Linked DNA regions of Homo sapiens: region 2 is linked to region 1. Evidence: fine-mapped expression QTL. A gene starts in region 1. The other region holds a variant in brackets. All regions are shown on one strand. Distances are between the middles of the regions.

Region 1 (2,584 bases):
ATCACTTGAGGCCAGGAGTTCGAGACCAGCCTGGCCAACACAGTGAAACACTGTCTCTACTAAAAACACACAAAAAAATCAGCCAGGTGTGGTGGCACATGCCTGTAATCCCAGCTACTGAGGCACAAGAATCACTGGAAACTGGAAAGTGGAGGCTGCAGTGAGATCGCACCACTGCACTCTAGCCTGGGCGACAGAGTGAAACTGTGTCAGGAAGAAAGAGAAAGAGAAATGAAAAGAAAAAACAGAGCAAGAAAGAAAAAGAAAAAAATAGAAAAAGTTATTTTCTCAACTCTACAAGGATCATCCTCCATGGCCAGGTTAACAGCTCTTTTTCTGGACCCCGGTGTCTTCATTGCTGCCACTTATTTGCTTTCTGATCTCTAGCTGGGTCTCCCTAGGCTCTTCTACTTCGCTGGAGAAAACTAACCCTACGCAGCCACATAGCATTCCTATCCCATAGCCCTGACCATGCTCAAGCTGCAAGACCTCTACACATCTCCATGTGCTGAAACTCCTCCAAGCACACTGTCAGGGACTCTGTGGGAGAGAAGCTGCCGGACAATCTGCCTAATCCTTGACTTCATCGCCCGTGGCAGAATTGGAAACCGCCCCACAAACCTTGGCATAAGGTGCAAGGTAATCCAGAGCTGTGACGTGCAACCGAAACTTGTGGGTTTTAGTGAATTTTCCAAAGCAGGTCCCCAGCGACACCAGCTTGTCCCCGGAAATATTGGCGGCCAGCTTCATAATCTTCTCACTAAAAGGGTAAAGGGGGAGCAAGGTTGCGGATGAAGGAGGCTCGTGGGACCCAGGACCCCTCTCCCCTGGGTCCATGCTGCCTGCCCGGCCCCGCCTCACCTCACATAGTACACCCGGTCGTTGTGCAGACGGAAACAGTAGGTGCCATCGGGCCGGTCCACCAGCAGTTGAAGATTCTCCCCAATGCTGAGGGCAAAAAGAGGACTGGAGACCGCGCCCGAACGAACCGGTCTCCGGCACCGCGCCCCCACTCCACCCTTGGCCACCACACCCACACACTCCCGCGTCCGCCCCGCGCGCTCCTACTATTTCGCTATCTTCTCAAACATGACACGGGTCTCCTCTTCAGTCAAAGGCCGCATTTTTCCCCCTGGGTTGGAACACCGGATCCTCGTGCCTTGGTAACTGGAAACGGAAGTCGGTCGCTCGCTGCTCCCCGGCAATCCCAAAGCCTTCCTCTCTAGCCCCGTACCAATAGTTCGTCTCGCTAGCGCCCAATAGTCTGGACGACCGCAGGGGAAAGCAAGCCGGCCGGATGAGAAAGCATAGAGACCGGAAATGTGCCTGTTTCTTCCTGTCCTAAGTTCGGAGTCAGCGCCCCTTGTGGTCCGGAAGGGAAGTGACGTTGTTGCTGGGAAGATGGCGACCGCGGCGACTATCCCATCGGTAGCCACGGCCACAGCAGCGGCTCTCGGCGAGGTGGAGGATGAAGGGCTCCTGGCGTCGCTGTTCCGGGACCGCTTCCCCGAGGCCCAGTGGCGCGAGCGGCCCGATGTGGGCCGCTACCTCCGGGAGTTGAGCGGCTCGGGGCTGGAGCGGCTGCGGCGCGAGCCCGAGCGCCTGGCGGAGGAGCGGGCGCAGCTGCTGCAGCAGACGCGCGACTTGGCCTTCGCTAACTACAAGACCTTCATCCGCGGCGCCGAGTGCACCGAGCGCATCCACCGCCTGTTTGGCGACGTGGAGGCGTCGCTCGGCCGCCTGCTCGACCGTTTGCCCAGCTTCCAGCAGAGCTGCAGGTGCGACGCGCCTGGCGCTAAAGGGGTTTTATAACTGTAAAAGCTGACATTTACGATGGTAGAAATAACTAACACATAAAGCGTTTACCACGTTCCAGGTTCTCTGCTGAGCGCTTTATTAATCCATTTAAACCTCACAACAGCCTTCGAGATAGGTACTGTTATTCCTTTTTTATCTTTTTTGAGACGGAGTCTCGCCCTGTCGCCAGGCTGGAGTGCAGTGGCGAGATCTCGGCTCGCTGCAACCTACCTCTGCCTCCTGGGTTCAAGCGATTCTCCTGCCTCAGCCTCCTGAGTAGCAGGGACCATAGGCGCGCGCCACCACGCCCAGCTAATTTTTTTGGATTTTTAGTAGAGACGGGGTTTCAGCATGTTGGCTGGGATGGTCTCGATCTTTTGATGTCGTGATCTGTCCGCCTCGGCCTCCCAAAGCGCTGGGATTACAGGCATAATCCACTGCGCCCAGCCCTGTTATTTCCATTTTACATATGAGCAAGTCAAGACAGAGATTAGTGACGTCCAAGGACACAGCTAGGAGGTTTCGAATTCAGAACTGGTTACCCAGAAGCACGTCCCTCCCTCGAAGGGCAGTTGTGGGCACAAAGAAAAAGGATTCATGCAAAGCTCTTATTATCGGGTCTGACACAGTTAACATTATAGGTGTGAGCTGAATATATGTGCACATTTATATACTTATTTTATACGAAAGCGTGGACCGGAGGTCATCTGCTTCAAAACTTCCATTGACGGGAAGGTGACAAGGAAATCCTCGCATTTGAGGGCATCAGATATCAAAAAGTCTCTCC
Region 2 (3,020 bases), 41 kb after region 1:
ACTGGTGGTGTACTGGGTTTCACCATGCCTGGTAGGAAGAACTAAATAGTAGAGGATTTAAAATCTAAGGCCAGGCACGGTGGCTCACGCCCATAATCCCAGCACTTTGGGAGGCTGAGGCGGGCAGATCATGAGGTCAGGAGATTGGGACCATCCTGGCTAACACGGTGAAACCCCATCTCTACTAAAAATACGAAAAATTAGCCAGGCATGGTGGCACGTGCATGTAATCTCAGCTACTCGGGAGGCTGAGGCAGCAGAATTGCTTGAACCAGGGAGGCAGAGGTTGCAGTGAGCTGAGATGGTGCCACTGCACTCCAGCCTGGGCGACAAAGCGAGACTCCGTCTCAAAAAAGAAAAAAAAAAGAAAAATGACGGCAACAAAAACCAACACCCAATGCCATCTTGAAAACTGAAGAAGAGCAGATACAGTGGCTCACACCTGTAATCTCAACACCTTGGGAGGCCAAGATGGGAAGATCACTTGAAGCCAGGAGTTCAAGACCATCCTGGGCAGCAAAGCGAGACCTCATCTCTATAAAGAATATAAAAAATTGGCCAGGCATGGTGGCACACACCTATAGTCCAGTCCCAGTTACTCAGGAGGCTGAGGTGGGAGGATCACTTGAGCCCAGAAGGTATAGGCTGCAGGAAGCTATGATTGCACCACTACACTCCAGCCTGGGTGACAGAGACCCCATCTTTAAAAAAATTTTTTTTAATTTAAAATTTCATGGTTCTAAATGGAATGTCAGTCCATGACTTTGTATATAAGGGGTAAGAAGTAATGAGAAGGAAAGAGAACATCTATTAGATAAACATGTGTTTCAGAAACACTCTTACCAGTTCTCCCTCGGGACCACCAAAATCCAAGTATAGATTTCGGATGCCATCATCAGCAGACATCTTCAGCCTTTCAAAGGGGTAGCGGTACAATATGCTGCTGGAGCCTCCATTTTCCCTTGAGATGGTGAACCCATTTTCATAGTGAATAGTAAGCCTCACCTCTTGGCCATTTAACATGCAGCCTGTTGAAGAAAAGCAAAAAACATTAGTTGTAAAGTTGCTATGTCAGTTATCAAGTGAAAAGGGAATCTTCTGACTTCAAAATAGGAAAAATATTTTCTTGAGAATGTGTGATACCTAACCTGTATGGAAACTTCTAAAGTGTGTTTTGTGCTAGGCGTGGTGGCTCACGCCTGTAATCCCAGCACTTTGGGAGGCCGAGGCAGGCGGATCGCAAAGTCAGGGGTTTGAGACCAGCCTGACCAACATGGTGAAACCCCGTCTCTACTAAAAATATAAAAATTAGCTGGGTGTGGTGGCGGGTGCCTGTAATCCCAGCTACTCAGGAGGCTGAGGCAGGAGAATTGCTTGCACCCGGGAGGCGGACGTTGCAGTGAGCCAAGATTGCACCACTGCACTCCACCCTGGGCGACAGAGCAAGACTGTCTCAAAAAAAAAAAAAAAAGAAGTGTGTTTTGTTTTGGTCACTGAGATGAGGCAGAAATGACCATAACACTCCTTGACATCTGTTCGATTTAATTCCTCGAGTACCCACTGAACACTCATACTGGCAAGTGTGTGTAGGCTGTGCAAGGCACTAGAGAAGTAAGAGGCACAGTCCCTGCTCTCAAGGACTTTGTAAAC[T/G]CATTGGCATAGACAGGAAATCCCCAATTGTGTAAGGCAGAATGTACAGAACATGAGCAAACACCAAAGTGAATGAGGCCAAAGTCAAGAAAAGGTTTCCTGGAGGAGATGGGCCTTCAGATAGGCCCTAAAGAATTGGTAATACTGGCCGGGTACGGTGGCTCACACCTGTAATCCCAGCACTTTGGGAGGTCGAGGTGGGCGGATCACTTGAGGTCAGGAGTTAGAGACTAGCCTGGCCAACATGGCGAAACCCCGTCTCTACTAAAAATACAAAAATTAGCCAGCCATGGTGGCACATGCCTGTAATCCCAGCTACTTGGGAGGCTGAGGCAGGATAACTGCTTGCACCTGGGAGGCAGAGGTTGCAGTGAGATGAAATCACGCCACTGCACTCCAGCCTGGGTGACAAGAGCGAGACACTGTCTCAAAAAAAAAAAAAAAAAAAAAAAAAAGAATTGGTAAAACTGGACAGGCAGGGAGGAAGAGGCAGAAGGACTGAACTGGGCAAGAAGGACCAACCAAAGGAGCAAAGGCAGAGAGGCCTTTCAGGAGCCGTGACATGGTTTGGTTGGCATTTGGGATGAAGATAAAGATTATGTTCATCAAAGTTAAAGGCTATACTCAGCAAAAGTCACAGTCAACGCTATCAAAGATACAATTCAAAGGACACCTCTGAATTGACAGGATACAAACAATTTTGGTCATCAAGACTGGCAAATGCCCCAGGTGTGGTGGGTCATGCTTACAATCCCAGCACTCTGGGAGGCTAAGGCAGGAGGCAGGAGGATCACTTGAGGCCAGGCGCTAGAGAACAGCCTGGGTAACATGGCAAGATCTCATTTCTATAAAAATAAAAAATGTATCTGGGCATGGTGGTGTGTGCCTATAGTCCCAGCTACTCAGGAGGCTGGGGTGGGAGGATCACTTGCGTCCAGGAGTTCAAGGCTGCAGTGAGCTATGATCATGCCACTGCACTCTAGCCTGGGTGACAGAGCAATGTCTAAACAATTTTAAAAAGAGAGATTTAGAGATTCTTTTTTTTGTTTGTTTTGAGATGGAATCTCCTTCTGTCACCCAGGCTGGGGTGCAGTGGCGTGATCTCGGTTCATTGCAACCTCACCCTCCTGGGCTCAAGCAATTCTTCTGCCTCAGCCTGCTGAGTAGCTGGGATTACAGATGTACACCACCACGCCCGGCTAATTTTTTTGCATTTTTAGTAGAGACAGGGTTTCACCACGTTGGCCAGGTTGGTCTTGAACTCCTGACTGCAAGGGATCCATCCACCTCGGCCTCCCAAAGTGTGGGGATTATAGGCGTGAGCCATTGCACATGGCTTCTTTTTTTTTTTGGAGACAGAGTCTCGCTCT

Evidence for each region. PIP is the estimated chance that this variant, and not a neighbour inherited with it, causes the effect.
Region 2: its variant is the best candidate, but not a certain one, in a credible set for the expression of COG8 in whole blood (TOPMed, PIP 0.52).

Annotation. Positions count from the first base shown.
Region 1 is chr16:69,338,370-69,340,953 of GRCh38, reverse strand. COG8 (component of oligomeric golgi complex 8) reads left to right here and starts at 1,390. Exons shown (of 6, transcript NM_032382.5): 1 at 1,390-1,778. The coding sequence starts at 1,402. NIP7 (nucleolar pre-rRNA processing protein NIP7) reads right to left here and starts at 1,182. Exons shown (of 5, transcript NM_016101.5): 1 at 1,069-1,182; 2 at 862-948; 3 at 622-760. The coding sequence starts at 1,124. RefSeq lists enhancers at 804-883, 1,064-1,183 and silencers at 1,604-1,653, 1,664-1,713.
Region 2 is chr16:69,297,598-69,300,617 of GRCh38, reverse strand. SNTB2 (syntrophin beta 2) reads right to left here. Exons shown (of 7, transcript NM_006750.4): 6 at 844-1,028. Among named protein-coding and RNA genes, the nearest start is that of VPS4A, 12 kb to the left of the region's middle. The variant T/G (reference allele first, on the strand shown) is at 1,651.